Linked DNA regions of Homo sapiens: region 1 is linked to region 2. The links come from fine-mapping of genetic effects on gene expression. A gene starts in region 2. The other region holds a variant in brackets. All regions are shown on one strand. Distances are between the middles of the regions.

Region 1 (4,393 bases), 310 kb after region 2:
GATGCCTTCTAGCTGTGTCTGTACATGACAAAAGGCATGAACAAACCTCCTTGAGCCACTAATCCCATTCTTGAGGGCTTTGTTCTTATGACCTAATTACTTCCAAAGGCCCAACCTCTTAATATCATCAGTGTGGGGTTAGGTTTCAACATATGAATTGGAAGGAAGACAAACATTCGATCACAGCAATGGTGTTATTGAGTTATTCTGTATCCTTGCTGATCTTCTGTCTAGTTGTTCCATCAATTGTTAAGACAGGGTATTGAATCTCCAACTATAATTCTATATTTGTCTATTTCTCCTTTCAGTTCTATCAATTTTACTTTACAAACCAGCTCTGTTGGTTTGTCCAAAAACATTTAGGATTGCTATGTCTTCTAGGTGGATTGACCAAGAAAGACTATTACATAATGTAATAGCCACTCCTGCTTTCTTTTGATTAACACTTGCATGGAATATCTTTTGCCATCCTTTTATGTTCATCCTACCTATATCATTATAATTAAAGTGAATTTCTTATAGATAGCATTTAGTTAAGTCATGTTTTTAAAAAATTAACTCTGCCAATTTTTGTCTTTCAATTTGTGCATTTATACCATTTGTATTTAATGTAATTATTGATAGGTTAGGACCTAAGTCTATGAATTTATTTTTAACATCTATTTTTCTGTTGTTCCGTTTTTCAGTTCTCTAGTTTTCTTCCTTGTAGGTTACTTGAACATTTTTAGCTCAGTTTAGTTTTTATTTTAACTCTTTGTATAGCATTTTAGCAATTTTTTTTTGTATTCCACTTTACACACATAACTTATCACATTCTACTGGTGTCAACATTTTTCCATTTAGAGATAAGTGTAAGAACCTTACCTCCCTTTATGTCCCTTTGCTCTCCCTGCATTAGTCCATTCTCACACTGCTATATAAAAAACTACCAGAGACTGGGTAATTTATGAAGAAAAGAGGTTTAATTGGCTCATGGTTCTGCAGACTGTACAGGCTTCTCGTTCTGGGGAGGCCTCAGAGAACATACAATCATGGCAAAGGCAAACGGGAAGCAAACACATCTTCACATGGCTGGCAGGAGAGAGAGGGAGAGAAGGAGGAGGTGCTACACACTTTCAAACTACCAGATCTCCTGAGAACTCTATCACAAGAACAGCAAAGGGGAAGTCCGCCCCCATGATTCAATCACCTCCCACCAGGCACCTCCAGCAACACTGGGAAATTATAATTTGACATGAAATTTGTGTAGGGACACAGAGCCAAACCATATCACTCCCCCACTTATAATTTAATTGCCTAAATTTTTTTATACATTGGGAACAACTTTAGTGTTTTTATTTTTGCTTCAACCATCAAATATAAAAATTACAAGAATGAAAGTATTAGTTTGTTAGGGCTGCCATAATAAAATACCACAGACTGGGTGGCTTAAAAAACAGAAATTTATTTTCTCACAGTTCTAGAGGCTAAAAGTCCAAGAGTAAGGTTTTGGCAGGTTTCATTTCTTCTGAGGCCTCTGTGCTTGGCTTATGGATGGCCACCTTCCTGCTATCTTTTCACATGGTCTTTCCTTTGTGTGAGCACATATCTGTGTCCAAATCCCCTCTTCTTATAAGGACATCACTCATACTGAATTGAGGCAAAGCCGTATTACCTCATTTTACCCTAATTACTTCTTTAAAGGCCCAATATCCAAATATAGTCACATTCTGAGGTATCAGGGTTTAGAACTTCATACGAATTTCAGGGGGACATAATTCATTCCATAACATAAAGTCTGTTGTATTTACTCATATTTTTGCTCTTTCTGTGTTTTTTTTCTTCCTAATCTTCCAAGATTTATTCTGTAATCCCCTTTTTTGCTTTTAGAACTTCCTATAGCCATTCTTTTAAAGTAAATAGGTCTGCTAGCCACAAATTTTCTTAGTTTCCTTCCTCTGACAATATCTTGATTTTGCCATCCTATCTAAAGGATATTTTCACTGGATATAGAATTCTCATTTGGCTGTTATTTTCTTTCAGCTGCTGAAAAACTCTTGTACCATTTCCTTCCAGTCTGTATGTTTTTTTATGAGAAATTTGCTGTCATTTTATAGGACGTGCATCATTTTTCTATGGCTGCTTTCAAGATTGTTTGTCTTTAGTTTTCAAAAGTTTGACTGTAATGTGTCTTAGCATGGATTTATTTCATTATGTTTTGGATTCACTTAGCATCTTGAATCTGTAGTCTTATGTCTTTTGCCAAATTTGGAGAAATTTAAGCCATTTTTCTTCAAATACTTTTTCAGTCCCATCCTTTTTAACCTCCTCTTCAAGAACTCCAATTACATGGGGGTTAGATCTTTTATTATAGTTGCATA[A/G]GTCCCTGAGGCTATTTTTTCAGCCTATTACTTACATTGGGTATTTTCCATTGTTCTATTTTCAAGTTTACTGATTATTTCCTCTGTCTTCTCCATTATGGGCGATTGAGCCCATTCATTGTTTTTGAATTTTGTTATTGTATTTTTCAGTTCTAAAATTTCCATTTGGTTCTTCTTTATAGCTCCTTTTTTGCTGAGAATTTCTATTTCTTTTCTAAGACTTTCTATTTTTTTTTCAAGCATGTTTGTGATTGCTCTTTGAAACACTTATGACAGTTGCTTTAAAATTCTTTTTAGATAATTCTAACATCTGTGCCATCTTGTCTTTGGTATCTGTTGATTGTCTTTTGTCATTCAAGTGGAGATCATCCTGGTTCTTGGTATAATGAGTTATTTTTTATTGAAACCTGAACATTTTAAATATTTTATTATGAGACTTCGTATCTTATTTAAATCTTTTGTTTAGCAGGCCTCCTCTGACTCTGTTCTTGTGTGGAAGGGAGGATGCTGCTTCGTTACTGCCATGCTTGGATTAAAGCCCAGGTTCTCCATAAGCCTTCGTTGATACTCAGGGGGAACATTGTTGAACGTCTCAACCCTCCACACGACTTCCTCTGATATCACCCTCATTACCACAGGTGGATTGAAAGTCTAAGTTCCTCATGTGGTTTCCACTAACACGATGGAAGGAGGGTCTCATTACCTCCCGGTGAAAATTAAAATCTCAGTTTCACTCTTAGCATTTTCTGACACCACCCTGGCAGGGGTGGTGTGGGATTGGGGTGCCTTGTAATAGCCTAGCCAAGGTGGGAGTCTAGCTTCCCCAACTGGTCTTTGATGACAGTGGTGAAAGTGGGGCCACAGTTTTTCCTGGGTGTTTGGTTACAGAGTTTTCTGTCTTGTTACTTTTACCCTTTCCTGGTCCTTTGTCTAGCGAGAACAGGCTGTTCTAGGGCTTTTGTGTGTTTGCACCTGTTGGTGATTCTGGATTGCTGACTTCTCTAGTACCCAGTCTTGAATGTATGAGGCCCAAAGTAAACCCAGGGGACTCATCTCCATTTAATTCCTTAGGGCGCAAGGTCTCTAGCAGGCCTGCTTTCTCTTCTACACCTTTCAGAGTCTTCTTATTGTTGTTGTATGTATAACTACCAGGGCTTTTAGCTGTATTTAGTAAACAGGATATGGAAAAACATGTCTACATCACCATACTGGAAATAGAAGTTCCATAATCCCAAATGATAATTTTATATCTTTAACGTATTTGACATCCCTGCAGCATTTGATTCTGTTGAGTACATCTTTCTTCTTGAAACTGTTTCTTTGGATTGTTACCTTACTCTTCTTTTCTTCCTAATTCTTTTGGTGTTCATTGTTAGTCAACACTATGGGCTCCTTTTCCTCTGCCCATATGATACCTTTTGAGGTTCCCTAGGTTTCACCATCAAATTTTAAATTTCTCAATTTATATCCTATCATTATTAACTCTCGGACCTAAATATCAAGCTCAGATCCTTTTGTTAAACTCCCCATCCATATATCCAGTTGCCTACAGGACATAAACACTTGGATACCACATATTTATTGCAAACTTAACATGTCAAAAATTACAGTCATCTTTTTTTCCCTCAAGCCTGACTTTTTTGCCTGTATTCTTGGAGAGGTGGTATGACATAATGATTAAGCACGCGTACTCTGGAACCTAGATTCAAATCCAAATTCAGTTCATTACTAGCTGCATAGCTATGGGAAAGTTATTTAATTTTTCAGCATACCAGTTTTATCATCTGTAAAATGGCATAGTAACTACTTCACAGGTGGAAGGGTAAATTCTTATGACTTAAAATTTTTTAAAGGCTACTCCTCTTTTTCAAGATCCAATCCAAACCCATGACCATGCCAAACAAGGCATAGTCCCATGTGTTAATACCCTCCCTGTCACCGACACCTCTGTTATTGTCAATACACAGTTCATATGCTGTCCTACTAAACTGGTAGATTTCAAAATGCACCATGTTCTTTCTATCCCTACTCTG
Region 2 (4,393 bases):
AACTGTAGAGGAACTTAAGAAATCAAGTCGCTCAACCCCTTCAACTTACAGAGAGTGGGGGTGACATGCTTAATATCCACAGTGAATTAATGGCAGAACTAGCTTAGAATCTAGGCATCTCAAGTTCTACCCTGTACCCTTTCCACTATGCAGTCATGCTACCACTAACTGTATACTTCCAAAGAAGAATGAGATGCCTGCTAGCAGCACTGATTTTTATCAATAAAGAAGCAAGATAATCTAGCCACCTTATGTTCAGAATATCTACTACTTATGCACTGTTTGTACAAGGGGCTAGGTAATTTATGTTCTGCTGTAATGATGAAAAGGATAAACTGAAGAGTGCAACAAGACATCATTGTAGAGTAAGGCTTGGAATGAAAATAGGTTAGTTAAAGACTAGCTCAGTGCTTGCTTTCATAATAAGGTTGTGAGAGGATTTTTACTTTTTCCTTACCAAAGTGTTTTCATATGTATTATTTCATCTTAGTCTCTCAACAGTCCTGGGAGGTAGGAAAGTCAGGGCTTATTAGCTAAAGTTTACAGAGGAAGAACAGGAGACTGAAAAGAGTTAGCTCAGTGATTTGCCCAAGGTCACCCATCTAGTTAGTGACAAGGCCAGGGCTCAGATGTGTGTCTACTGCTTCCAAACGTCTTTCCTCTAGTCTAGACACATAATTCTAATAGTCCTTGAGTGATGACTATATATCCTGTGAACTGAACTTTACAGATATGCTGGGACTGAAACACGCTGGATTCTACCAAGTTACAATCATAGAAATATTATCCGAAAAAGAAAAAAAATGCTGAGTTTCAAGGTGGGGCAGGGCAAATGAATGTTATAACATAGGTTAACACAAGTAAGAATCAACAAGTTGAGTTGCCATTTTATCAAATTTTCTGCTTTCAAATAAGGAAAATATAAAACAATAAACATGATCAAGACGGTGTTTGTAGGCCTAAAAGATCGAGGATGGTTTCCCATGTGCATCATCTCTAAGGACTTTAAAAAGGCAGGCTATAAACACCTAAATTGCCATTTTATTAAAGAAAAGTCAGGGCAGCATCATATATGCAGACAGTCCAGGGGGGTGCTAAGAAAAAAGGATTGATGGAGGGGGGTGACTTTGAGAGACATTTCAGTGGCCTGCTGCAGCACACCGCAGGCTGCTGTGCGTTGAAGAGGCAGTGACAGGTGAGGAAGTAGAAGTAGAGAGTGGAAACCTTGACCGCAGAAAGCTGGCTGTGAAGGAAGGGGCCGCAGTGTGTTTGTTGGCCATGAAGAAGAAGCTGCACAAGAACAGGGGAAGAAACTGAACAGGCGAGACAGAGTGGGAACATCCTGTTGAGTCACAACTGAGTTGTCAACACTTTCTCCGCTAGTGCGAGGCCCTTTAAAAATTCACTGCCCGCATGTGGCTCCAGAGAAAACACCTCAAAGAGAGAAGATAACCTGTCCAAGTGAAGGCAGAGAAATCAGCACAAGATTCAGTAACAAATTCGCTTTTCAGGACTATTATTGTGGCTGTTTGGTCTATTACAAAAGCCCAGCTCAGAAACTACAAGGTCAAGCTTGAACAGATGTGCAGAGATGTTCTGGACCCAGTCTAAAAGCTGATTCTTCCCAAAGGCACAACATTATTAATTGGCCAGCTTATCAATGGATGCTCTTTCCTGTAGGTTTGTTTAGAGACAATACTGCTAGTCATAAAGTTTGCTGATTGCTGGCTTGCTCATCTCGGTGGGGCAAGTGCAAGGCCGTGCCAGGAACTCCAGATGACTGGAACATACACAAGCACAGTGCTAGCCATAGACACCAACACTGAGCCAGGGTGCGGGGGAGCCCGAGCAGGGGGCATCCTCAAAGTGCTTCTTTATTTAAACTATGCTCTGGGGCAATGTTTCATAATGACCCCACACACCTAGCGCGTACACACAGAGCAGTCTACACACACAGCCTCACTATGTCCGCTGGCCTGCTGGCTTTGCTTTCCACCCCTCTAGGCAAGGTCCACAAATTAGCAGCCTTTTAACCCTCCCAGGTCTCCGTTCTCGGGACCTTCAGAAGAAAAAGGCAGTCAGAGAAACATGAACGCGCTAATCAGGAAACCAGCGTTTCAGCCCACTCAGCCACGCGGGCCGTCCACACTAACGACTTTCACCTCCCCTCGCCTGGGCTGGCTGGAGGGGCGGGGAACCCGGCAGTAAAGAGGAGGACCAAAGAGGGGCCCTGCTTGAATGAAACAATGTAACAATTGATGTGAGGCCTCGCCTCGCTCCCACTCCCCAGCGATCCTATAGGCGAGGTCCCAGTGACTGCCCCTCCCCATTGCTCCGTTTTCTTGTCCATTACGCGCTATCCCTCCGCCTCTCCTTCTTTCTTTTCTTTTCTTTTTTTCCCTTCTCCTTTTCCCCCCTCTCTCCCCCTTTCTCCAGCTCCGTGTCATTTCCTCCTTGCGCTCGCTCGCTGCCTGAGCGTCTCCAGCCGGGAGAGTAGGCGGAGCAGGGCGGTGCGGGGTGGCGTAGAGCTGGAGGGCGATGGTGGCGGAGCTGCTGGGGGCGGAGGCAACGTAGCCCCCTCGGAAAAGGAGCCCGGCGGCGCCTGAGCCCAGCCGAGGATGGAGAACCGGCCTGGGTCCTTCCAGTACGTCCCTGTGCAGCTGCAAGGGGGGGCACCCTGGGGCTTCACCCTTAAGGGGGGTCTGGAACACTGTGAGCCGCTCACAGTGTCTAAGGTAAGAACTGGCGGCTGATGTCCTAACGGCGCCTAACTTTGAATGGACAAGCGGGTGCGAAGGCTGCCGCTGGACGGGGCCCTCAGGCCAACTTTGAAACTTAGGGCTGGGAGCGAAAGACCCTCTGAGCGGCACGGAGGGGTCTTGCCACCAGTCCAGGTGCAGACATCCCCTAAGGGTGGCTGGAACACGAGCTGGGAGCACAACTGGCCCCCGGCTAGAACCTTGCGCGCAGACACACTCGCGAGGGCGCTGGGGCAGCCCTTGCTGCCCCACGTCGGGGCGGCTACTTCCCTCAGTTTGGGCCGAAGGAAGTGGAGGCTGTTGGGGATTTCTCCTTGGAGGCCTCTGCGTCCCTGCGGGACAGTGAAGGACTGAAGGGACAGTCATCGCGGCTTGGCAGCTCTCTTGGCAGCGTTGTCCCCTCTATCGACCGGCGGGCCGTCCCTCCCAGGCAGGTTGCAGGGCTAGGGGCTGGTGTGGGAACGGAGATGAGGCCATTGGTGGCTTTTGCCAGCCACACTTCCCACGGCCGGACGCGCACACATCCATTCAGCTCTTGGGGCGTTGTTGCCGCCGGTTCGGCTCGGCCTCTCCCTCCCTCCAGAGTCCTGCCCCAGCGCCGGCGAGATTTCCTGCACGTTGAGAAGTGTGGAGGAAACTTGCGCCATGGAGCGCAGCTGTGCTGGAGCTACTGCTGTTGCTGCTGCCGCTGCCGCCGCCGCCGCCGCCGCCGCCGCCACTGCCGCCGCCGCCGCCGCCGCCAGGGTTTGTTTGTTTTAGGAGTCTGTGATCTGCTGGAAGCCAAGTTGCAGCTGAGGACAGGAGAGAGGAGCTCTCCTGAGTGCTCCAGAACCCCCAAAGCGAGCCTCCCCCGTAGGGGTGAGGGCGAGGGGTAGGGGCAGCTGGAGCTGTTACCAGGAAGAGTGACTTGTGGGACGACTCACCTTGAGGTGCCAGATTGCCAAGTGAACGGACTTTACGAACTTTATTCCACTTTTTTGTTGTTTCTCTTAAATCCTCAAATCCGAAAAGCCCTCCCGCTTCCAACCCGCTTAAATGGCAGTTGAAGTTGTAGATGTGGGTTCAGGCTGGAGATAGAAAGATGTGTCTTTTCAGCAGGGAGCAAATATCACTTTTTTTTTGCGGGGGGGTGGGGTTCAACATTGGTCACATCTCAGCAGAGGGTTCAGCAAACGTCCACCGCAACACACACCCACAATAACCTGTGCGGCATTCGCCTTGCATTGGAGCCTGTGGTTGACTTCCAGTGTATGGGATCCTTCAGGCCTTGGGGCCCACACTCTTAGCAACCCTGGAGTGTTGCCATGGGTGTACCAATCAGATTGAGGAGTCTGAGGTATGCTGAGGCAACATTTTGAGGGGCTGGCAGGGACCCCTCTGATCATTAGCCTCCCCAAACTAGCCCAGATCTTCATCCAGCACCCTTTCCCCCATACTTGTCATGTACTTTAACCAGCCTGAGATGCGTTTGTCATCCACTGTCACAACCCCTCCTGAGGCAGTCTCCCTCCAGTGTTCTCTGGAGAAAGTTATATGCTTTTTTTTTTTTTTTTTTTTTTTAACAAAAACACTCAACTCCTTTGGTGAGGGGAATCCTGGCCTTCAGGAATTTCTTCTAATCAAGCTCCTCCTCT

Alleles and levels. Alleles are on the strand shown, and positions count from the first base shown. SD is a standard deviation of normalised expression in the study named.
With allele A in place of G in region 1, the expression in tibial artery of the gene that starts at base 2,443 in region 2 is lower (small effect, 0.24 SD a copy in GTEx).

Evidence for each region. PIP is the estimated chance that this variant, and not a neighbour inherited with it, causes the effect.
Region 1: its variant is the best candidate, but not a certain one, in a credible set for the expression of SHROOM4 in tibial artery (GTEx, PIP 0.61).

What each region holds. Positions count from the first base shown.
Region 1 is chrX:50,507,116-50,511,508 of GRCh38, reverse strand. No RefSeq gene overlaps it. Among named protein-coding and RNA genes, the nearest start is that of DGKK, 38 kb to the right of the region's middle. The variant A/G (reference allele first, on the strand shown) is at 2,361.
Region 2 is chrX:50,812,244-50,816,636 of GRCh38, reverse strand. It overlaps SHROOM4 (shroom family member 4), which reads left to right and starts at 2,443. Exons shown (of 9, transcript NM_020717.5): 1 at 2,443-2,735. The coding sequence starts at 2,619. RefSeq lists an enhancer at 2,895-3,396.